3 separate regions of the Homo sapiens genome follow, and all the other regions are linked to region 2. Evidence: fine-mapped expression QTL. A gene starts in region 2. Each other region holds a variant in brackets. All regions are shown on one strand. Distances are between the middles of the regions.

Evidence for each region. PIP is the estimated chance that this variant, and not a neighbour inherited with it, causes the effect.
Region 1: its variant is fine-mapped to the expression of TMEM25 in caudate (GTEx, PIP 0.98).
Region 3: its variant is fine-mapped to the expression of TMEM25 in whole blood (INTERVAL, PIP 0.94).

The regions. Positions count from the first base shown.
Region 1 is chr11:118,564,363-118,572,362 of GRCh38, forward strand. IFT46 (intraflagellar transport 46) reads right to left here and starts at 1,569. Exons shown (of 12, transcript NM_001168618.2): 1 at 1,428-1,569; 2 at 603-699. It overlaps LOC124902764 (a long non-coding RNA gene), which reads left to right and starts at 699. Exons shown (of 4, transcript XR_007062907.1): 1 at 699-1,012; 2 at 1,250-1,343; 3 at 1,840-1,924; 4 at 3,716-4,237. RefSeq lists enhancers at 1,612-1,841, 7,709-7,838. The variant G/A (reference allele first, on the strand shown) is at 4,105.
Region 2 is chr11:118,526,178-118,534,420 of GRCh38, forward strand. It overlaps TMEM25 (transmembrane protein 25), which reads left to right and starts at 5,015. Exons shown (of 9, transcript NM_032780.4): 1 at 5,015-5,057; 2 at 5,598-5,694; 3 at 5,973-6,284; 4 at 6,740-7,030; 5 at 7,243-7,374; 6 at 7,680-7,710; 7 at 7,852-7,952; 8 at 8,089-8,178. The coding sequence starts at 5,625. It overlaps KMT2A (lysine methyltransferase 2A), which reads left to right. Exons shown (of 36, transcript NM_001197104.2): 36 at 1-655. TTC36 (tetratricopeptide repeat domain 36) reads left to right here and starts at 1,297. Exons shown (of 3, transcript NM_001080441.4): 1 at 1,297-1,435; 2 at 2,426-2,614; 3 at 4,477-4,816. The coding sequence starts at 1,318. The coding sequence ends at 4,739. It overlaps TTC36-AS1 (TTC36 and KMT2A antisense RNA 1), which reads right to left and starts at 4,598. Exons shown (of 3, transcript NR_120574.1): 1 at 4,327-4,598. RefSeq lists silencers at 3,477-3,771, 4,293-4,572, 4,693-5,132, 5,163-5,262.
Region 3 is chr11:118,381,696-118,389,964 of GRCh38, forward strand. It overlaps UBE4A (ubiquitination factor E4A), which reads left to right. Exons shown (of 20, transcript NM_001204077.2): 13 at 894-1,081; 14 at 2,940-3,040; 15 at 3,137-3,250; 16 at 4,743-4,917; 17 at 8,030-8,210. The region is part of intron 3 of LOC100131626 (a long non-coding RNA gene); the gene reads right to left. Among named protein-coding and RNA genes, the nearest start is that of ATP5MG, 16 kb to the right of the region's middle. The variant C/T (reference allele first, on the strand shown) is at 4,892.

The sequences.
Region 1 (8,000 bases), 38 kb after region 2:
TTAACACTATTTACCCAAGTGCCAGGCATAAGGCTGGCACACAGTAGGCATTTTAAAATGCTTGTTGGCCAGACACGATGGCTCACACCTATAATCCCAGCACTTTGGGAGGCCAAAGCGGAAGGACTGCTTGAGGCTAGGAGTTCAAGATCAGCCTTGGTAACATAGCGAGGCCTCGTCTCTATAAAATTAAGAAAAAAAAGTTTGTTGAATAAATAAATAGTGTTCAGTCCTTTAAAAACATTCCACTGTGATTTTGGTTGGGGTTGCAGGCTAAGGGGAGGTTATGAAGCATCTTCAAAGCTAGGAAAAACATAAGTTAAAAAAAAAGAAAAGAAAAAGAAAAAGAACAGTGAATTCCTGGCAGACAGTGAGCAAAGCAGTAACATGAAGTAAATGGTGACAGGGTTGGATTGGGGGAAGATCCTGTAATTTGGAAGGCTATGATTTCTCCCCCTTAACTAGTCAGAAAACAAACAATGGCAAGTGAAGTAAATTGACGCTGAAAGTCAACATTTGCTATTATAAAATAAGAACTTCTTGAAGACAACCGTGAATCCATCCTGCTCTTTCAGTAGCATTTCTCTTCTTTCCTCTCTTACCTTGGTGTCTTGGGGTTGGAGTATAAATACTTGCAACCTCTTCGGAGTCGTTAATCTCTAGACGCTCATCATATGTCTGGTTTTCAACAACCTTGGTCTAAGCAAAGGGAGACATAATTCATAGCTCCTATCATGAGACATAAAGCACTCTGCCAGGAGGTATATTCCAAACCAGCATTGGCTCCTCTTCCTTACTCAAGAAACCAGTTTTTCACAAAACCATCACCCCATCCAAACTTTCCTTCAGGCTTCCTGGCCCTCGGTCAAGCAGTTAAGTCATTCTGTTGCAGCCCTTATTTAGGAACTGCTGGCAGGCTGGCTGAGGAACCAGGGAATCGTGGAGGGAAAGAGAGCCAACTTCTGCAGCTTCCCAAAGCTGTACGACCACGCGCAAGGGCAGAACACTATTTGTATGTAGATGGCCAAGGCTGTTGAGGTTTCTCAGGGAAGGCTGTAGAGGTTCTAGAAAGAGTTCTGTCTCTGGAGTCACCTCTGGGGTGGGGTGGGGTGGGGTGGGGTGGGGTGGGGTGGGGTGGGCTGAGGCGGGGTAGGGTGGGAGGGTCCCCGAAGAGAGGGGAAACTCCAGTCTCTCAGTCCCATCCGATAATCCCAAAATCATCACCTCCACTTTCACCCTTATCTTGCAGATAGGATCCCACCTAAGTTTCTTGGGGGAATAAAGGAAGCAGGACGGTTGGTGGTGAGGTGACGAAGGAACAGTTACCACGGAGATTGGAAGAGGTAACCGGGAATGGGGTAAAGGGGAGTCCTCTTAAGCCTCTCTAGAAAGACAGTTCCCTTTTTGCTGGGATGAGTACTAATTACCTGTAGCCCTTCTGAATCCGTCTCCTCTATAATGGAAAGAACCCCAGCCTAGGGCTGGGGTCTCACTCCAGTCTCAAAGCCAGGCCACTTTAGGATTCCACGCCAAGCAACCAGCCTGTTGTCAGTCGCTAGGCAAAAAGATAAATTTTAAAATTCGCGAGAGTTGCTTCCACTCTCGTGAGACCTCCTGCGCGTTAAGCCTCACCCGCGAAGGCTCTCCACGCAGGAAGAAGATCAAGGAGTCACGGATAAAGCCTCTCTGGGCGGCCAAGTCGCCTGTTTGTCTATGGTTTCAGTAAATACGTCTGTTGCGGCATCTAGCGGCTATGGGTGGCAACGCGGCTGATAAATTTCGGGCTGGTGTAGAGTTAGCCCTTCAATCTGGAAACAAGGTGTGCGTTTGTTCCCCTAGGACAACAATCTCTGGGGATGCAGTTGCTCCCAGATCAGTCTTACCAGGATGTAGACACATTCCAGGGGAAATTTCGCAGCACTCTGTAAGTCCTTTTCTAGCACTATATTACACTATAGTCTTTCCCCTCCACAGGGTGCCATGGAATGGAACATACTTATAGCAATAAATTATTCCTTGGGTATCTGAGGTTCAAATTTAACTCTGTGGGCCGGGCGCGGTGGCTCACGCCTGTAATCCCAGCACTTTGGGAGGCCAAGGCGGGCGGATCACGAGGTCAGGAGATCGAGACCATCCTGGCTAACACGGTGAAACCCCGTCTCTACTAAAAAATTCAAAAAATTAGCCGGGCGTGGTGGCGGACGCCTGTAGTCCCAGCTACTCGAGAGGCTGAGGCAGGAGAATGGCATGAACCCAGGAGGCGGAGCTTGCAGGGAGCCGAGATCGCACCACTGCACTCCAGCCTGGGCAACAAAGCGAGACTCCGTCTCAAAAAAAATTTTTTTTCACTCTGTGTCCTGTCTTTCTTATTTGCTAAAGTAGACTTTTAACTTATTTAAAGCAAGACCTGTGTCTAATTAATTTTTAAGCTTTGTAACACCAGTGTATTGCAGAAATTAGACACTAACAATGCTCATTGGGTGGATGAATCGAGGAATGAGTGAATGGAGATGTAAGGAACAAATATTTTCAAACTGTGGACATAATTAATTTGGGAAGTCAGGGAGAGAGAAACATAAAATATTGGAGGCCAGGTGCGGTGGCTCACACCTGTAATCCCAGCACTTCAGGAGGTAGAGGTGGGACGATTGCTTGAGTTCAGGAGTTTGAGACCAGCTAGAGCAACATAGCAAGAACCGCCCCCCTCCACTCTATTAAAAATAAAAAAAAAATTTTTTTTAATTAGCCAGGTGTGGTGGCACGCACCTATAGTGCTAGCCACTCGGGAGGCTGAGGCGGGGGGATTGCTTGAGCCAGGGAGGCAGAGGTTGCAGTGAACCGAGATTGGGCCACTGCATTCACTCCAGCCTGGGCAACAGATCAAGACCCCATCTCAAATATAAATAATGAATAATAACAATAATAATTTTTTGGTCGGGCACGGTGGCTCACGCCTGTAATCCCAGCACTTTGGGAGGCCAAGGTGGGTGGATCACAAGGTCAGGAGTTCAAGACCAGCCTGACCAACATGGTGAAACCCCCGTCTCTACTAAAAATACAAAAATTAGCTAGGCATGGTGGCGCGCGCCTGTAATCCCAGCCACTCAGGAGGCTGCGGCAGGAGAATTGCTTGAACCCGGGAGGTGGAGGTTGTGGTGAGCCGAGATCGCACCACTGCACTCCAGCCTGGGCGACAGGGCGAGACTCCGTCTCAAAATAATAATAATAGCAATACATTTTAAAAAGAAAATAATATTGGAAATTTGACCCTGAAAACCTACCAGAGGTAAACAAGGAAAGTGCCTTTAAAAAATGAGAGACAGCTTTTCTGGCATACTGATAGTTAAAAATAGAACTGCATTTAAAAAAAAATTTGTGATCTGTTTTGCTCGTAATAGTGGATATGTAATGTGCAGTACTTACTATGTAGGAGCACTTAGTTTTTTTGTGGGGAGCACTTAGATTATATCATCTAATTTACTTCACAACCTTATGAGATAGATGTTACTGCCAATCTACAGATTAAGTAATTGAGGCTTAGACAGTTAAAGTAACTTGCCTAAAGTCACTCATAATAAGCGCTGAAAATAGCAGCCAAACACAGGTCAGTCTGATTCCTAAGTCTCTGCTTTTAACCATTATAAGATACTGCCACTATGGGACTCCTCAAGAAGCATGCTTACAGGGTTGCTTTTTCTTCTGTGGTTTAATTCAGCTACCGTTATATTTCCGAAGAAGCAGCATCAACTGGTCTTTGCTGAGCTTCTGAGATCCAAGTTGGAAGCCCTGGAAGGTGCTACAATAAGGCAATAGTTTCTAACAGGATTTTTACTTTTCTAAAAAAATAAGAATTTGTTCCATGTTTCTTAAAATATGTCTGCTTTTTGTAACAAAAATTAAAATTGGGCCAGGTGAAGTGGCTCACGCCTGTAATCCTAGGACTTTGGGAGGCCGAGGCAGGTGGATCACCAGAGGTCAAGAGTTCAAGACCAGCCTGTCCCAACATGGTGAAACCCCCATCTCTACTAAAAATACAAAAATTAGCCAGGTGTGGTGGTGCATGCCTGTAATCCTAGCTACTCAGGAGGCTGAGACAGGAGAATC[G/A]CTTGAACCCGGGAGGCGGAGGTTGCAGTGAGTTAAGATGGCACCACTGCATTCTAGCCTGGGCGACAGAGTGAGACTGTCTCAAAATAAATAAATAAATAATAAATAAATAAATAAAAAGTTACCCCATAAATGTGTACAGTTGTTATCTTTTTTAGGACATTTCATCATCCCCTAAAGAAAGTTTGTACCCATTGTCACTTTTTTTTTCTTTTTTTGAGACAGGGTCTCACTCTGTCGCCCAGGCTGGAATACAGTGACGAGACCTCAGCTCACTGCTATCTCTGCCTCGGGGTTCAAGCGATTCTCCCACCGAGTAGCTGGGACTATAGGCATGGGCCACCACGCCCAGCTAATTTTTGTATTTTTAGTAGAGATGGGGTTTCACCATGTTGCTCAGGCTGGTCTGGAATTCCTGACCTCAAGTGATCCGCCCACCTCGGCCTCCCAAAATGCTGGGATTACAGGCGTAAGCCACCGCACCTGGCCAGTGGGTACAAGTATTATGTGTCAATTAGAAAATTTAAAAATAGGCCGGGAGCTGTGGCTCACGCCTGTAATCCCAGCACTCTGGGAGGCTGAGGCAGGCAGATCACTTGAGGTTAGGAGTTCAAGACCAGCCTGGCCATGGTGAAACCCCATCTCTACTAAAAATACAAAAAACTAGCCAGGCGTGGTCGTCCATGCCTGTAATCCCAGCTACTTGGGAGGCTAAGTCAGGAGAATCCCTCCAACCCAGGAGGCAGAGGTTGCAGTGAGCTGAGATCATACCATTGCACTCCAGCCCGGGCAACAAAAGCGAAACTCCTTCTCAAAAAAAAAAAATTTTTTTTTTTAAAATATTGACTGGGCTCAGTGGCTCATTCCTGCAATCCCAGAACTTTGGGGGGACAAGATGGGAGTACTGCTTGAGGTCAGGAGTTCGAGACCAGCCTGGGCAACATAGCAAGACCCCCATCTCTCTAAAAAAGTTTTTTTAATGAAAAAAAACTTTAAAATACAGTTTGACATATATCCTCCCAGACATATAAAATTTAAAAATATTTGAGCTTTCTAAAGATTTCTATTAGAAGGCCATTGGAGATGGAATTGATACGGGTAAGAGCAAGAAGTCTATAATGCAGTGCTTAAGGGTATAGTCCAAAGTTGAACAGCCTTTGTTTGAATCCTCGCTTACCTACTTTTTAGCCATGAGACCTGTGGTGGGATAGTTTTCTTCTCTGTACCTTGATTTCCTCATGTGTAAAATGGAGACAATAAAGGTACCTATCTCAGAGGATTCTTGTGAGGATTAAATGAGATAATCTGTGTGAAGTTAGAGTAATGGCTGGTATGCTGTAAGTGTTCAATAAATGTTAGGGAACACACAGGAGATACAGAGGCAGTGTGTTTTAATGGAAAAAGCTGACTTTGTTTTTTTGTTTGTTTGTTTTGAGACTGAGTGTTACTCTGTTGCCCAGTCTGGAGGGCAGTGTTGTGATCTCAACTCACTGCAACCTCCGCCTCCCAGGTTCAACCAATTCTCATGCCTCAGCTTCCCAGATAGCTGGGAGTACAGGCATGAGACACCACGCCCAGCTTTTTTTTTTTTTTTTTTTTTTTGAGACGGAGTCTCCCTCTGTCGCCACGCTGGAGTGCAGTGGCATGATCTCGGCTCACTGCAACCCAACCTCCGCCTCCTAGCTTCAAGGATTCCCCCACCTCAGCCTCCCGAACAGCTGAGACTACAGGCACGCGCCACCATGCCCAGCTAATTTTTTTTTTTTTGTACTCTTAGTAGAGATGGGGTTTCACCATGTTGGCCAGGATGGTCTCGATCTCTTGACCTTGTGATCCGCCCACCTCAGCCTCCCAAAGTGCTGGGATTACAGGCGTGAGCCACCGCGCCCAGCCAGGAGAAAACTGACTTTGAACTTGGCTCTACCACTTACTAGTTGTGTGAGTTTGGACAAATGCTTAACTTTTTTGATCCTCAGTATCTTTATTTGGATTGATGTAAAAGATTGGAAATAACATGTGTAAAGTACCTGACACAAATGAAGCACTCAATTAAAAGTTGCTATTATACTTAATTGTGGACATACAGGTTTAATATGGATGAGTGCTGTTCGGTTGAGCTAAGGATGTAGGATAAAATGATTTAAGGAAGAACTACTGAATCAGCTATACTCTGAAAAATCTGAAATTTGGCATACAAGAAATAACATGAGAATCACAAGAACAGATTTTGAGTCTTGGTTCCATCATATACTGGTTTAGAAACTTTGGGTAAGTCACTTAAACTTTTCACCATTTTCTTCATATACAAAATGGACATGAGCACAACTGCCCTGCTTCCAGTGCATGTTTTTTTAAAGATATAATTTACAAATCATAAAAATTCACCTTTTAAAATTATACAATTTAGTGGTTTTTAGTATATTTGCCTCTATCTAGTTCCAGAACTATTTTTTTTTTAAGAGTCTAAGTCTCACAATTTGCACAGGCTGACCTTTAACCCCTGGTCTCAAGCCATCCTCCCAACTCAGCCTCCCAAGTAGCTGGGACTCTAGGATCATGCCACCATGCCTGGCTTAATTCCAGAATGTTTTAATTATTCCAGAAATAAATCTTACACTAATTAACTGTCACTCTCTATTCCTACCCTTCCTGAGCCCCTGGAAATCACTAAGCTAGTTTCTGTCTCTGTGGATTTTCTTCTATTCTGGATCTTTCGTATTAATGGAATCATATATGAGTGCCCCATTGTATCCGTCTTTTTTCACATAATATTCTCAAGGTTCATCCATATTGTAGCATGTCAGTACTTTATTCCTTTTTGTGACTAAATAATATTCCATTGCATATATATGCCACATCTATTGATGAATGGATTTGTTTGGATTGTCTCCACTTTTTGGCTACTATGAATAATGCTGCTATGAACATTAGAGTACACATTTTTGTGTTGACATATATTCAGTTCTCCTGGGTATGTACCTATGAGTGGAATTGCTCAGTCATGTGGTAATTTTGTTTAACTTTTTGAGGAACTGCCAAACTCTTTTCCAACGTGGCTGCACTATTTTACATTCATCCTCACCAACAATTATTATGATAGCCATCCTAGTGAGTGTGAAATGACGTCTCACCACGGGTCTGATTTCCATTTCCCTAAGGATATTCAACATTTCTTAATGTGCATATTAGCCATTTATATATCTTCTTTGGACACATATCTATTCAAATCTTTTGCTCATTTTAATTTTGTGTTTTCTACTCCCTCCATTTTGCAGATGAAGCCCATTTTTAGACAGGAATACTGTATTTGTCTTTTTATTGCTGAGTTATAAGAGTTCTTAGGCCAGGCGCGGTGGCTGACGCCTGTAATCCCAACATTGGGAGGCTGAGGCGGGCGGATCACTTGGGGTCAGAAGTTTGAGGCTAGCCTGGCCGACATGGTGAAACCCCGTCTCAACTAAAAATACAAAAAACAGCCGAGCGTGGTGTGGCGCGTGCCTGTAATCCCAGCTACTCCGGAGGCTGAGGCAGAAGAATCGCTTGAACCTGGGAAGTGGAGGTTGCAGTGAGCCGAGATCACGCCATTGCACTCCAGCCTGGGCGACAGAGTGAGACTCCATCTCAAAAAAAAAAAAAAAAAGTTCTTTATATATTCCGGATACTGGTCTTTTAGGCACACAGGTTATCCTGTATATTAAATAATAGTGGCTGTGCCAGCGGCTTGTTAAACTGTAAGATGTGACGCAAAATAAATGAAGGCGATGACAGTGAAAGGGGAGAGATACGAGGTTCCACAGCTGGAGGGTGAACGCCCCCTACACCTCCTGGGCTTAATCGTAACCGGAGCGGGGTACCCTCAATTTCCCCAGCCCACAGGCCCCGCCCCCCCCCCCGCC
Region 2 (8,243 bases):
TCCATTCCTCGGATCAGAGAAAAATGCAGACATGGTGTCACCTGGATTTTTTTCTGCCCATGAATGTTGCCAGTCAGTACCTGTCCTCCTTGTTTCTCTATTTTTGGTTATGAATGTTGGGGTTACCACCTGCATTTAGGGGAAAATTGTGTTCTGTGCTTTCCTGGTATCTTGTTCCGAGGTACTCTAGTTCTGTCTTTCAACCAAGAAAATAGAATTGTGGTGTTTCTTTTATTGAACTTTTAACAGTCTCTTTAGTAAATACAGGTAGTTGAATAATTGTTTCAAGAGCTCAACAGATGACAAGCTTCTTTTCTAGAAATAAGACATTTTTTGACAACTTTATCATGTATAACAGATCTGTTTTTTTTCCTTGTGTTCTTCCAAGCTTCTGGTTAGAGAAAAAGAGAAAAAAAAAAAAGGAAAATGTGTCTAAAGTCCATCAGTGTTAACTCCCTGTGACAGGGATGAAGGAAAATACTTTAATAGTTCAAAAAATAATAATGCTGAAAGCTCTCTACGAAAGACTGAATGTAAAAGTAAAAAGTGTACATAGTTGTAAAAAAAAGGAGTTTTTAAACATGTTTATTTTCTATGCACTTTTTTTTATTTAAGTGATAGTTTAATTAATAAACATGTCAAGTTTATTGCTGCACATGGTTAAGCTTCCTTTTGGCTTTGGTTGGAGAGGGTGGAGAAAAGCGGGAGGGGCATGGCCTGTGACCTGGTCACAAAGTACCTTCCACAGTCCTTTACTTTAAGGTGGCATCACTAAATTATTCCCTGTAGCCCACCTTCAGGTCCACTCCACACTGGCTCTCTTGACTATTTTCTTCCTTTATTCATCAGTGATGTATGTTCAGGACCTAATTAATTGTGGATATGAGGCAGGGTCAAGAGGACAAAGGAACAGGGCCTTTACCTTCTACATAGCTCCCCTGTTTCATCCAAGGAGGTTAAGTATTGATTTTTATCGGTTTTCTCAACTGTGAATATAATAAACTGAAAGCATTTCAGGGAGAAGCTGGAGAACACCTTCTCTAGCTGCACTCCACCTTAAGGCTGAAGCTGGATTTGTTTACTGTTTCTCCTGGGGGCAGGGGCAGTTGAGAAATAACCAAGTAGTCTGCCAAGCCAGGGTCAACCCTCCAGGCCACAGGTTGAGCAAATGCTACAGCCATGGACAGGGAGACACTCCTCACGAAGGGGTGGTCCTCATCCTTTCAGATCAACTTCCTGCTGGAGGCTCCACCCTCACCACGTCCCTCCCTCTTCTCTCATCTGGAGTCACCTTTTGGGATTTTGGAGTTGAGCACCATGGGGACTCCAAATGATCAGGCAGTGCTGCAGGCCATCTTCAACCCTGACACCCCATTTGGAGACATTGTTGGATTGGACCTCGGAGAGGAAGCAGAAAAGGAAGAACGAGAAGAAGGTGGGCATTTGATCTGGAGTGTAGCTCTGCACATAGGCTGGCCTGCTGGCCTCCCGAGGTAGCAGAGAGGGAGGTGGTTTTATAAGGCCCCTTGTTCCATGATTATGATTGAGATTGGAATCAGAGAGGTTGGCTGCTCCTTAGCGCACTGATGGGGGTTTGGTAAGAGATGTCCTGCCAAGAGGAGTAAGCTGGGGTTTGTCTCTCGATCCATCAGCTCTCATGCCTCTGAACTTACCACTTAATTGACTGTATGATCCAAGCTTAACTGCCAGGTGATGTTAAACTCTCACATTTTTGTCATAACAGAGAATACCACCACCAGAACAGAAGACTGAAATAAGGCAGGGCATGGTTGCTCAGTTGAGTGGTTCCAATATAGCAAGCACAACCAGTAACCGTTAAACACTGTCACAAGCCAAGCTCCAAACTAACTCTTCCGCAGTGAGTGCGTTCACTGGCTTTTCCATTAATCCCTAATGAAGGAGTTTTTGATCCTTTGTTTCTAGAGGAGTAAAGCCTACACCTTACTAACTCAGGCCGAAACACAGAGGGATACGTCAGAAGTGATGTTCATGATCTGGGAATGTCATGGTGGCCTTTGCATAAGAGGCGGTGTAGTAGAGTAAAATGCAGACAGGAGCCAGAATGACCTGGGTTCAAATCCAAGCTCTGCAACGTATGGCCTGTTGAGGCCATACACAAAGAACTTGAGCAACTTCTTTAACAGATTGAGGAGTCTGGGCTTCATTCTCTTGGCAATGGGGAACCAACCAAGGCCCCTTCCCAGGTCTCTTGGAACTCAGGCAATGCTAGCTCCCAGCCTTAGTGACCTCATCTCCCCCTACCCCAAACACTGCAACTGACCCCTGCTGTGACCCATACCCAGTCAGCTCTGGCTCAGATCTCAGAATTCCAAAGCCTGAGGTGGCTTTTTCTTCTTGCTACCAACTGCACACCTGGCTTCTCCTGGCTCCTTCCCTGGCCCAGATGAAGTTTTCCCTCAAGCACAGCTGGAACAGTCCAAGGCCCTGGAGCTGCAGGGGGTGATGGCAGCAGAGGCTGGGGACCTCAGCACAGCCCTGGAGAGGTTTGGCCAAGCCATCTGCCTGCTGCCTGAGAGGGCTTCAGCCTACAACAACCGTGCCCAGGCCCGGCGACTCCAGGGAGACGTGGCAGGTAAGGGGAGATGCCCTGTATCCTCTGCAAAAGGGCCCACGGGAGGGCACAGACCAGAACTGAAGTGGCTGTGCGGCTGGGGTGGCCTTGCTAAACCCCTGTGGAGCCTGTCTTCTTACCTATAAGGTAGGAGTAGTATCAGGGGACCTGCTAATATCATGGGGTTAATGTGAAATTCAGAAGAGACTGCATTCCATTGATTAAGGAACAGTTAATGAGAGCCTACTATGTGGCAGTAGGCTGGTGCTGAGGACACTGAGATAAAAGGTATATGGATCACCAACATTTATATAGCAGTCACTATGTACCAGGCATTAATCACTTTACATACAAACTAGTAAATCAATCCTCACAACAACCCTAAAAAGTATGTACTATTGTTATCCCCAGTTTATAGATGAAGAAACTGAAGCATGAAGAGGCTAAGTAACTTGCCCACTATCATACAGTCAGGCAGCAGCAGAGCTGGGATGTCAACCAGGTGGTAGGGCTCGAGTGTGTGCTCTTAATCCCCACATGATACTGCTCCTCGAAAAGCTCCCAGTCCAGGAGGCAGGGCAGACACATAATTCTGAGACCAGCAAAACAAGTTCGAGAGGGGTCAGCGTGGGACCTGTTCCTGAAGGGCGAGTTTTGAAGGATGAGTGGGAGTTAGTTGGTGGGTGGAGAAGGTACAGTCTGTAGAGGTCCAAAACTCCTGCTGCATTCAGGTTATTCTAATTAAGTGAAGACAATGGGACCATGCTGGGGACCAAAGATGAGGCTAATGTGAAGGTATAAACCACGGAAACCTAGTACTACTTGACTGTTAGGAGCAGTGGTGACACAGGTGCTCCCAGAACCAGCAATGCCAGGCTAGGGAGTTTTGAGTCCACTCCAGGAACAATGGGAACCTCCCAGGAGCCCCTTATCCAGGCTTATCTGCCCCAGATCACTGGAGACAGCCTGCAGACCAAAACCCCAGAGAGATGCAGTGGTGATTCCAACTGGAGATTCCTCCAGACCAGCTCCTCCGAGGGAAACCAAGGAGTACTGCATTCTGAGCGCTTCTCCGGAGGCTCAGGCTCTTTGGGGGACTAGAGAACATGAGTGAATTGAAGCAGAGCCCGAAAGAAGCCAGCCTGGTGGACTTTAAGAAGGTGGCTGGCTGCCTGAAGTTCTGAGTTCAGAGTTCTGAGGCCCAACCCAAGTATTTTATGAGAATAATAACAATAAAAATGGTGCAGGCCAGCTCTGGCTCCAGGACCAAGGAAATTAGATACATGGAGATAACCAAAGAATGATGAAAGGCAATCAGTCCAGGATACAGGGGAGAGAGAAGGTGTTCTAAAGAAAGCAATGGAAAAGAGAAAACGGCCCTCAAAAGGAAAACAATGAGAAACTGTCTTGATTGTACTTGTAAGAAATGATTGTGCGGTTAATATTATTTTTTGAACCCTGACATTCAGAGTCAGTCACCTGGCACATAGTGGATGCTTAATAACAGGTGTGGAATAAATTGGCTGCTACTTGCCCGGGCAGTGGGCCAGACTCATAAACATAGTGGCCATTCAGAATCCTGCAACGTTCATGTTTTCGTGTATTAGCGGTGGAAAATAATAGGAACAAGGCGAGACCTGGACTTCAGTCCCAGCTCTGCCACTAAGTGGCTTGGCTGTAGAGCTTAACTCTTCCACAGTCTTCATCTGTGTAATGGGAATAACGATCCGTACCTCTAGCAGGTGCGAGGCGGGTTGTAAATGGCCACGCCCGGGAGCCGCAAGAACCACGGTGATCCGCGCGGCCGCAGGTGGGCTGGGGCTCGGGCAAGGCCGCCCTGGCCTCCGCTGACCCCCGCCCCGCCCGTCTCGTCGGTCCCGCAGGCGCCCTGGAGGATCTGGAACGCGCGGTGGAGCTGAGCGGCGGCCGGGGCCGCGCCGCCCGCCAGAGCTTTGTGCAGCGCGGACTCCTGGCGCGGCTGCAGGGCCGAGACGACGACGCCCGCAGGGACTTCGAGAGGGCGGCACGGCTGGGCAGCCCCTTCGCGCGGCGCCAGCTGGTGCTGCTCAACCCCTACGCCGCGCTGTGCAACCGCATGCTGGCCGACATGATGGGGCAGCTGCGCCGCCCCCGTGACAGCCGCTGAGCGCCGCGGACCCGGGCGTCCGCGGGCGAGGGGACGGGACTGGGCCCTGAACCAATAAAGCCGTCGGGCCTCACCGACTCCGCCTGCTCCTGCGTCCTGCCCGCGCCCGGAGAGAAGGGCACTCGGGGGTACTCGGCGCGGGCTGGGGACCAGCCGGGGGGTGGTGAGCCGCGGCCGCCCACCTGCCGGGTAAGGGCCCCTCGGGCCCGTGGTCGGGCATCGATTGGCCCCGCCTGGCGCAGCCCCCGCCCCTGCAGCGGACTGCGGTGCTCATCAGACCTGAGCAGTTGCTCCGGCGGCGCTCGGGGAGGGAGCCAGGTGAGCCGCCCCGGTGGCGGGGGGCGGGGGCGGGATGCTCGGCGACCCCACCCTCCGACCCTCTCCTCTTCCGCCGACATCCACCGGAGCCACCAACATCAGGAAAGGGGGCGTAGGGCGAGGGATGGGAGAGAGAACAGGGCAGGAGAGAGGATGGGAACAGGGCAGGAGAGAGAATAGGATTAGGAGAAAGGCGATCCCTTTGGGGGAGGGGCGCGTGGAGTATGTGTGTGAGTGTGCGTGTGTGCAAGGTGTGGTTGCACGGATGCTCGTTGCTTCTGCGTATCTGCGGGTGTGTGCCTCTTTGTATTGTAGCCTGGAGTCAGTGCTCGCTTCTGCGCCTGCAGGATGTCCATGTGTCTGCTGGGTGGGTCTGTGCCTTTGGGCTTTGCCGTTCGTGTCCGTGCCTTCGCCACTGGGGGCTGGTCTACATTTGCGTTTCCGTACATGGTTCTTTTTGTTTCTGGAGAGTAAATTCCTGGAGCAATTGCTAGGCCTGCCTGCTGTCACCTGGCTGACAGGCCCGCCCCCTTCTCTCAGCAGCCTAGGGCCTAGGCCCGGGCCACCATGGCGCTGCCTCCAGGCCCAGCCGCCCTCCGGCACACACTGCTGCTCCTGCCAGCCCTTCTGAGCTCAGGTACACCCCTGTTCAGTCGTTGACCAAGTCCTTCTGGGTTCCAAAGCCCCCTCTCTCCCCTGTCTGCACTTCTGTTTGGGTACCCACTCCAGGCCCCAAGCCCTGGAGTCCCTGTCCCCTTCACCCACCTACCCTAGGTCCAACCAGCCAGTCCCTGGTGAGAGGACTCAGGTGCCCTTTCCTTTGGCCTGCTGCTCTTCTCACTGGGCCAATTCCTGGTCACAGCACAGTACCAACCGTGCCTGAGCCCTTCCCAGAGGCCTCCTGCTGTGTTCCAGGTTGGGGGGAGTTGGAGCCACAAATAGATGGTCAGACCTGGGCTGAGCGGGCACTTCGGGAGAATGAACGCCACGCCTTCACCTGCCGGGTGGCAGGGGGGCCTGGCACCCCCAGATTGGCCTGGTATCTGGATGGACAGCTGCAGGAGGCCAGCACCTCAAGACTGCTGAGCGTGGGAGGGGAGGCCTTCTCTGGAGGCACCAGCACCTTCACTGTCACTGCCCATCGGGCCCAGCATGAGCTCAACTGCTCTCTGCAGGACCCCAGAAGTGGCCGATCAGCCAACGCCTCTGTCATCCTTAATGTGCAATGTGAGTGGCCCTGAGGTGGGCAGGGAGATAGGTTCTTTGCCCAGGGACCCCCAGCACCCACCAGGCAGGTGGTCCGCAGGACATTTAGCAGACACTTAAGCACTTTGCAAATATGAACTCATTTGATCCTCTGAGTAACCCCATGAGGTCATTACTATTGTCGTCACCATTTTACAAATAAGAAAACTGAGGCAGAAAGAGGTAAGCAATCTGCCCAGGGTGATGATCCCGCTGGTAAGAAGCAGAGCCAGGATTCACATCTGGGCATTTGGCTCTAGTATTTACACTCATAATCACTCCGAAATGCTGCCTCTCTGGCAGACCCAGCCATCCTGTTCCTCAGCATCCCCTCTGAGGAGAGGCCCAGGCCCCTGGCTCCCATCTGGGTTTGGGAAGAAAGGGCTAGAAGTATGAGGGGCTGTGGTGAGAGCATATTGGCCTCTGCTTTGTACCAGTCAAGCCAGAGATTGCCCAAGTCGGCGCCAAGTACCAGGAAGCTCAGGGCCCAGGCCTCCTGGTTGTCCTGTTTGCCCTGGTGCGTGCCAACCCGCCGGCCAATGTCACCTGGATCGACCAGGATGGGCCAGTGACTGTCAACACCTCTGACTTCCTGGTGCTGGATGCGCAGAACTACCCCTGGCTCACCAACCACACGGTGCAGCTGCAGCTCCGCAGCCTGGCACACAACCTCTCGGTGGTGGCCACCAATGACGTGGGTGTCACCAGTGCGTCGCTTCCAGCCCCAGGTGAGCATGGCCAGCAAGCGGCCCTGCAAAGCTTCAGGTGGGCTCAGGGGTCCCGTCCCCATACAGAAATGGGAATACTTGTTGCCCTGTGGTTGGGTCTTGTGGATGAACTGTCCCCAGCCACCCTGGGCAAGGAGGGCAGAGTAGTACCTATGGCATGTTGGGGCTGGGGCACTACCCACTTGGGACCTGACACAGAGGACATCCTCCAGGGCTTCTGGCTACCCGGGTGGAAGTGCCACTGCTGGGCATTGTTGTGGCTGCTGGGCTTGCACTGGGCACCCTCGTGGGGTTCAGCACCTTGGTGGCCTGCCTGGTCTGCAGAAAAGAGAAGAAAACCAAAGGTAGGCCAGGGACACTGGGGGCAGTGTGGATGAGGTCAGGCTGAGCAGCAGCCAAGACAGCAAGTGCAGCTGGGCAGAACCAGTCATCTCTGACGGTGGCAGAGCACTTCCAGGGGGTGGCCATGGGTACGGTGACATGCATCCCAGGTAGCAGGGTCAAGCACTGGGAACCCAGTCTCTGGCCCCAGGGCCAGGCCTGGGCATTTGAGAGACCCCTTGCCTGAGGGTCCTGGGTCTGAAAGGGTAGGACAGCCCAGCGTGGGAGGGCACACTGAGAATTAGGGACATGGTTTCTTTCTCCACAGGCCCCTCCCGGCACCCATCTCTGATATCAAGGTAACTCTTCCTTGGGCTGGGTGGACAAGCCTAACCGAAATGCAGGATGGGGACAGGAGGGAGCCTGGGGTTTCTGGTAGAGGCAGCCATGAGTGCCTGTGCCGGGACTCATATCCATCCCGAACTTTGTCCTCCCTGTAGTGACTCCAACAACCTAAAACTCAACAACGTGCGCCTGCCACGGGAGAACATGTCCCTCCCGTCCAACCTTCAGCTCAATGACCTCACTCCAGATTCCAGAGGTATATCTAGGGCCCTGCTCTTTGCCCCTGCTTAATCTCCAGAAGTGCTTCTGAGAAAAAGAACTTGGTGCTTGGGAGGGGCGAGGCCTCATCAGGCACACTCCTCGTCCTGAACACTGCCCTCTTTGTCAACCAGCAGTGAAACCAGCAGACCGGCAGATGGCTCAGAACAACAGCCGGCCAGAGCTTCTGGACCCGGAGCCCGGCGGCCTCCTCACCAGCCAAGGTACTGGGGAAGGGGCCTGCCACCCTCCTCCTCTGCCCCCCAGCCCTGTGCTTATGCCAGAGGCC
Region 3 (8,269 bases), 140 kb before region 2:
AGGTATAATAAACAAAGGACTTTGTCCACAGAGAATTTAATCCTGCATATAAGTATCTTATGGGAAGTCCACTGCCAGTCCCTGGTTAAAGTAGTTAACCTAATGCCAGAAACTTAACAGTGGCAGCCAGGTGCTAATGATCTTCTAATAATTATATGATAATAAAGCTTATTCTTGCTATTCTGAGTTGGATGAGCAGTAAACTTAAGTCAATGTTATTTCTCATTTCAAGTTTTCTCACTCATAGCTTCTAGTCCTCTTTTCCAAAGGAAGATACTGTGACTTGTAGAATTGCTTCCCTGATTTTTTTGATGCATAGGCTAAAGGAAGTGGAAACTCTGTGTACAAAAGTGAAGATTTGCTGCACAATGAAGAGAATGACCCACAATTCCCTGAGCCGTATCAGTGATAAGTAGAGAGAAGCCATTTCTTCACTGAGCTGAGCATACCTAATGAGAAGTCATAAGTCAACAAGTATTATGCATACACTGTATGCGTCATGGGTAATGTAGCATAATTATATTCTAGTCTTTACCCTCAGAAAGCTTGAAAAGGCAAGTTTATTCCACATGAAACTGTCAGAGAATAGGAAGCAGTAAATAATGCATTATTACAGAGAAGTAAACAATGGCTAAGCATTCAATAGAAACTTAAGTGCTCACCGTCATATTTGGTAAGCTGTCAACTCAAGAGTTAAATGATGTACCCTGCATCACCACCCCACCCCCCGCCCAGCCGCACCAAGAAACTGACAAACTTAAAACTGCAGAAGTGGATCCTTTTTTTTCCTGTAATATGGTTTAGGGTGGATTTTGATTCTTATGTGGAGAGAACAGAGTCATAAATTTGGAGTTAAGCTTATCTGCTCATCTTGCTTTTTGCCCATTTTGCAGAATGAAGAATCCCCACCTGAGGGCCAAACTAGCAGAGGTGTTGGAAGCAGTGATGCCCCACCTGGATCAGACCCCAAATCCCTTGGTATCCAGTGTGTTCCACCGGAAACGTGTGTTCTGCAACTTTCAGTATGCACCCCAACTTGCAGAGGCTCTAATCAAGGTTTTTGTGGACATCGAATTTACAGGTAAAGCAGTCATGAAGCTGAGCCCAGAACTGGGAAGCTGATACCAGTGGAGTTTCATAGTTTGATCCGTATTTGGATATCAAAGAAATGTCAAGCCATTACTTATTGAATACCTACTATATGCCAGGCTTGATGATAAGTGCTTTTTTTTTTTTTTTAACATTATCCCATTGTCACCATTGGAAAAGTTTCACTCTATTATCCCTGTTTTATTTATTTTTTATTTTTTAATTATTCTTGTTTTACATATGAAGACATGACTGCCCAAAAGATCAGTTTGTCCATGTCATAACAAACTACCAAGTGGTAGAATCAGGTCTGTGTCACCTAAAGAAATCTACATATTCAACACCCTTATTATGTTGCATCATCAAATCAGACTCAAATTAGACTATTTGGGTCTTTATATTTCTCTGCCTTAAAATTACAGAATAGTGCATAAAGAGGCAGTGTATTGGTTGAGAGATTCTTTTATCTTAACCAGACTATCTAACTCTCCAACAGTCTAATGGTTCGATTAAAAATACCAGCAGGCGGACAGGCACAGTGGCTCATGCTTGTAATCCCAGCGTTTTGGGAGGCCAAAGTAGGCAGATCACTTGAGCTCCTGAGTTTGAGACCAGCCTGGCCAACATGGTGAAACCCATTCTCTACAAAAATACAAAAATTACCCAGGCATGGTGGCAGGTGCCTGTAATCCCAGCTACTTAGGAGGCAGAGGCACGAGAATTGCTTGAATTCGGGAGGCAGAGGTGGCAGTGAGCTGAGATCGCACCACTCCAGCCTGGATGACAGAGCAAGAAATCCCTCTCAAAAAAAAAAAAAAAAAAAAAAAACCAGCAGGCAACATTCCCTCTCTATCTAACCCTGAGCCCCTGTGTTTGTTTAAACAGTACCCTGTCTCAATCAGTAAATAAGATATGTTAAGAAGTTGTTGAAGACCATTTTTTAAAGGGATATCTACCATCCAATGATAAATACAACTAACATTTAAAGAGGCATTTAACATTTTACTGGCCGCCTTTCCATATTTGGATTCTGGTTTTTTTTAATTCGCTCACCTATCAACCTTAGTTTCCTCATCTATAAAATGGGTCAAAGTGATGATTAAGTGAAATAATGCATGTAAATCTTTATAATACATAAGAAATTGTATAATAAATCATTGCAGTTATCTCGTTATGTGACCATACAACCAAAGTGTTGTAATGGAGTACAATTTCTGTTTTATTTCTGAGGAAGTGGAAGCTGAAGAAGATTAAGAGACTTAGATTAAGCAGAGCCAGAATGAAAACGTAGGTCTTTTGACTCCAAATCCTACACTCTTCCTTTATTATGACCCAGCCTGTGGAGCTCTAGTAATACCTTTGGTATTTCAAAAGCAGTATAAGCCTCAGATTTTTAGCTCCTGACCTGATTTTTCAGAGTAATCAAGAACCTGTTGGCTACACAGTTTGGGATATTGTCTGTGAAGAATGTGGGAATTGCTTAGTGTCCCGTCCTGCACATGGCTTTCACTGCCATAATGGCCAGCCCTGAGCCCTCATTTAAAGCCTGAGAAGTACTCATGTTTGGATATGGAAACATTTGTTTCCCTTAACTTTTATTTTACAGCTTGGTACTTGTCTCTTGCAGAGTAAGGTATCCTTTATCTCTGTCTCCCCCTTACTTCATCAGTAAGGAAATGAGCAAACACTTGGCGATAACTCTAGGCCTTTAGAAACTCCAGGGCAGATTTTGTTAGTAGCCTTAACACACTCAAAAGCAAATGACTACAAAGCAAATGGCTACACATAAGCATAAACTCTTCCTCTTATGGCACCGCCTTTGCTGATATTTCGCTCTTGCCTTACTCCAGGAGACCCCCATCAATTTGAACAGAAGTTTAATTACCGCCGTCCCATGTATCCTATCCTAAGATACATGTGGGGGACAGATACCTATCGGGAGAGCATTAAGGTGAGAGAGTTTTTGATGAAACCTGTTGCTTTATATAAGCCCTAATGAGTTGTAATTCAGTACTAAAATGGTTTTCTTGTGGGCTGGGACTTACAGGATTTGGCTGACTATGCCTCTAAGAATTTAGAAGCCATGAATCCCCCACTTTTCCTCCGCTTTCTTAACCTGCTAATGAATGATGCCATCTTCCTTTTGGATGAAGCCATACAGGTAAAAAAAAAAAAAAAAAAAAAGATTTAACTTCTCCATACCATCAAATCATCAGCAGTACATACATTTTACCTTTTAATCATAATAGAGCAGTCCTTATGCCCCTAGTACCAGACTTGAACACCAAAAATTTGTGATTAGTAGTGTACCACCAAGCTTGTCATTATAGAGCTTTCTAGTTCATTCCATTAGAGACCAAGATCAAGGGTCATTGAAGCATCATGAGATGGACATTTTGGCAGAGTCAAAAATACCATATGGTGAAGCCAAACTAAGTTGTACTGGCAGGAGTAATTCATCAGGCCAGCACTACAGAAAGAAATCAGAGGAGCTTGCTTTTGGTCAGTGACTTTCAACCCTTTTAATCCCAACATGTCAGTAAAATATCTCACTAAGACAGTGATTTTTAACCCACTTTCCTAAAAGATTCTGATTTTTGCACCACTACTTGAAAGAAAATCTCTGATTTGGGTTATTTTTTCATATAAAGGCTCCAAGTTGTCAATACTTCTCATATTTCCACTGCCTTCTAAATTCTTAGCTATATGGTGAAACAAAGGTTTCACAAAGTATAAAATGCAGCTGGGTGCCTCTCAGCTCCTTCAGTGTATTATTTCCTTAACCTTCCCTGGTGGAACTGCTTACTTCTCCCATAAAAACTTGGCTGTCTGTAGAGCAAAACTTCCCTTACCTGTGATGGGTATAGGATGGACAAGGCACTGACCTAAAGGGAGATGAAGCAGGTAAATCCTGAGGGTAGCCTTTAGACAGTCATGAGCTCCTCCTTATGATCAGCAATCCCCTGAGTAGCTTGTGTTTAATTTGTGAGAAAGGTTTGATCTGATTTCTTCATAATCCTACGCTTTAGGATTTAAGATAGGTTTTCTTCAAAAGCGAGAATAGGTCCTGTTACAAACAGGCCCTTTTAAGCAAGAGGTGTGTGACACAAAGCATGAAGCAGATGGTATTTTCATGAGACTGTAAGTTTAACAAGTTGTTTGCTACAACAGGAAGGATGACGTGAGGTAGAGAGTTTTAAATAATTATGGTTCTTCCACGCATCTTGCATATGTGATAGAGCTTTGATTTTTTTGTAAGCAATTTGGCAGGGGGGATTTGTTTTCATCTTTCAGGAAGGATTCATTGTTTTTTCACTATAGTGTGGGGTTTTTTAGTTTTTTGTTTCTTGGCCTGGGTTTCATATATTAAACTATTCATCCTTCTTTGCATTTCACAATGCTATACTATTTCTAGGGGAATTACCTGTGAATCTACCCAAGCTGAAACAAATCTGTATGAAGCCACAATTTCTTTTTTTCCTGAAAGTTCTTTTGAGCTTCAGCCTTATGCTGAGAAATAAAGGCTCATGTCTTTTACATGGTCCCTCGTTTTCCCAGCTTAGTTGACTGGATTTTGAATAGGACCTCTTAAATGTCACGTCCCTTCAACTGCACCTTTCTTCTCTGATATATCCCATCTCTGGTTTCTGCAGTATTTGAGCAAGATAAAGATTCAGCAAATTGAGAAGGATCGAGGTGAATGGGATAGTCTGACTCCAGAAGCCCGCCGAGAAAAGGAGGCTGGCCTACAGATGTTTGGACAGCTGGCACGTTTCCATAACATCATGTCCAATGAAACAAT[C/T]GGTACCCTTGCCTTTCTCACATCAGGTAAGGACATGAAGTACTGCTTCCCCCCAAAAAAGTAATGGCCAAGATCAGCTTCACTTGGGGGATCAGCCCAGCTGAAACTAAGAATTCAGACCCTGGTGACAGTATCCTCCACATCTGGAAGGGAAACGAATCACTTGAGAAGCTTCAAAAAGAATGATGATGCCCATTGTTGACATGGAAGTGAGGAAATGGTCACCCTCACACAGCTGCCAGAGAGCATAAGGTGGTAAAATCTTTCTTGAGGACAAGTTAGCCATATAAATATATGTGTGTCTGTACACACACATATATACATATATGTTTGTTAATCTGAGAAATACGCTTGAATCCTGGTTAAATATGGTGGATCTAACAGAAATTTATCTCTACTCCTTCTATAGCTCCACTGTCCAATTCAGTAGCCACTTGCAACGTGTGGCTTTCAAGGATTTAAAATGTAGCTGGTCTGAATTGAGATGTGCTATAAGTACAAGACTTAGTGTTAAAATGTGAAATCTGTCCATTTTTATACTGATTACATACTGAAATTATCATTTTTAATGTCTCAGCTAAATGTGATATGACAATCAGTAATCACCAGACATTTGAGGAAATCCTCTAATGTGAAAAACAAATAGGTGAAAACTTTGTAAAAACTTTTTAAAAAAACTTTTTAATCTCAGAGGGATAAGAGAAGATACAGCAGCCACAAAACAAGAACAAAGAGGCAATGAAAGAGATTATTTGAAGAATAAGAAAGAGCCCTTGGATATTGAAATTTTTACCTCGGAAATGTTAAATATTCAGTAAAGGAGTTAGAAGATATAAATTCAAGGAACTCTTCTATGAACGTAGAACAGAAGGAAAAAGATGGAAATTAGAAGAGAAAGGATAAGAAAACAAAAGGATGGATCTAGGAAGTCTCAAAAGCGAAAAATGGAGGGGAGGAAGTTATCAAAGATACCAAAAAATCCCCAAGACTCAAAGACAGCCTCTAAATTGAAAGGGCTTGCCAAGGCCCCTGCACAGAGAATTTTTTAAAACCCACAGTGAGGTATGACATTGTGAAATTTTAGGAAATCATGGTAAAAACAAGACCCTAAAATAGCCCAGAGAAGTCAGGTAATGTTACCATAGTTTAAGTATCAAAATGGCTTTGCACTTCCAACAGTGTCATTTGAAGCTGAGACACATTTCTGAGGGAAAGTAAACCTAGGAGGAGGAAGGTGGAATTCAACACAAGGGAGACGCAAAGGAGATTCCCAGGATGACGGTGAAAGGAGCTTGTGTGGCCACTACATAGCAGGCCTGTAGAGCAAGCAGTCCAGGTTGGAGCAAAGGATGGAAACATCCAGAAAGAATGTTTCCAAAAATTAATCAGCAGCTGGAAATGACCATGTTGAGAGTTTTAAATTCCAATGGAGAGTTTGGAAAGGATTTAGTGATAAGAGGCTCTGAAAATAAGCAAATAAGCAAAAAGTTATACTAAAAAGGAACTATATACTCATTAGGACAGCACATGGCTCTGCTGTGAATAATATTTACATAATCTTAATAACAAACTAAATTATTTAAGCAAAAATTTGACTATATATTGAGGGCATCTGTGATAATGACTAAAACTGAAAAATCAAGAACTATCAGTACCAACCAAACATAGCATTATGATACTGTCTGACTTGTTAAATTTGGCATGTATAAATTTTTTTTAATTTTTGGAATTCATGCCCTATAACATAGCAGTTCCTTACAGATTTGTTAAGAAGAAGCGATAGGCCAGGCACGGTGGCTCACGCCTGTAATCCCAGCACTTTGGGAGGTCGAGGCAAGCAGATCACAAGGTCAGGAGTTCGAGACCAGCCTGGCCAACATAGTGAAACCCCGTCTATACTAAAATTACAGAAATTAGCCAGGTGTGGTGGCATGTGCCTGTAGTCCCAGCTGCTTGAGAGACTGAGGTAGGAGAATCACTTGAACTTAGGAGGCGGAGGTTGCAGTGAGCAGAGATCACGCCACTGCGCTCCAGCCTAGGCAACAGAATGAGACTCTATCTCAAAAAAAAAAAAAAGAAGCGATGAGTCTACAAGATGTATCCACAATGAAGTTCATTGATAAGTGTAGGAAAAAACTGAAAATAGTAAAAATGTCCACCAGTAAAGACATTAAATAAATAACTTATGGTGCAGTTACAACTGGAAAAGTCAGCCATTAAAAATGATGTAAAACAGACTGGGTACAGTGGCTCACACCTGTAATCTCAGCACTTTGGGAGGCCAAGGCAGGAGGATCACTTGAGCCCAGGAAGTTGAGACTGCCTTGAACCATGATCGTGCCACTGCACTGCAGCCTAGGCACCAGCAAGACCCTGTCTCAAAAAAATAAAAAATAATTTTTTTAAAAAATGATGTAAAACAGCTGGGCACAGTGGCTCACGCCTGTAATCCTCTAACCCTTTGGAAGCCGAGGCAGGAGGATCACTTTGAGCCCAGGAGTTTGAGACCAGCCTGGGCAATATAGTGAGACCCCATCTCATTTTTTAAAAAGATTATGTGAATCACCCCTATTCTATAGAACTTTCTGTGATGGTGAAAATGTCCTATAAATCTGGGCTGTCCAGAACCATACTTAACTAGCCACATGTGGCTAGTGTGACTGAGGAATGGATTTTTTATTTTTTATTTTAATAGCCACATATGGCCAGTGGCTACTATGTTGGATAGCACAGGGACATACACTTACTAAAATGATAAAGTATTTGCAATATAGTTACTGAAAACAGTAAGTTTCAGAATATGTAAAATATGATCATTTTTGTTTAAAAAATGTCTGTGTGTGTGTAAATAAGGACAGAAAAGCTAGAAGGACAAAATGTTAAATTAGCAAGATGTTAACAGTGTTTATCTCTGGATGGTAGTTTTTGTCTTTTCTGTTTTTTGTTTGGTTTTGGTTTTTTGCTTGTCTATATTTTCTGCAGTGAAAATGAATTACTTAGTTTTTTAAAAAAGTAGTTCCTTCAAAATGTTTAGAAATAAAATAACAGTAGTTCCCAGAGGTCTCCAAATAAACTATACCTAATAAGGAAAAGAGTGCTAATGGATTGAGTTTTCAGAGACTTTGGATTCTTTTCCAGAGATCAAGTCACTCTTTGTGCATCCCTTCCTGGCTGAGCGCATCATCTCCATGTTGAACTACTTCCTGCAACACCTGGTTGGCCCCAAGATGGGTGCCTTAAAAGTCAAGGACTTCAGCGAATTTGACTTCAAACCCCAGCAGCTTGTATCAGATATCTGCACTATCTACTTAAATCTTGGGTACCTGAGATTGAAATCTGTCAAGCCAGAGGGGATGCTGTTTTGATTTAGGGTTTTGA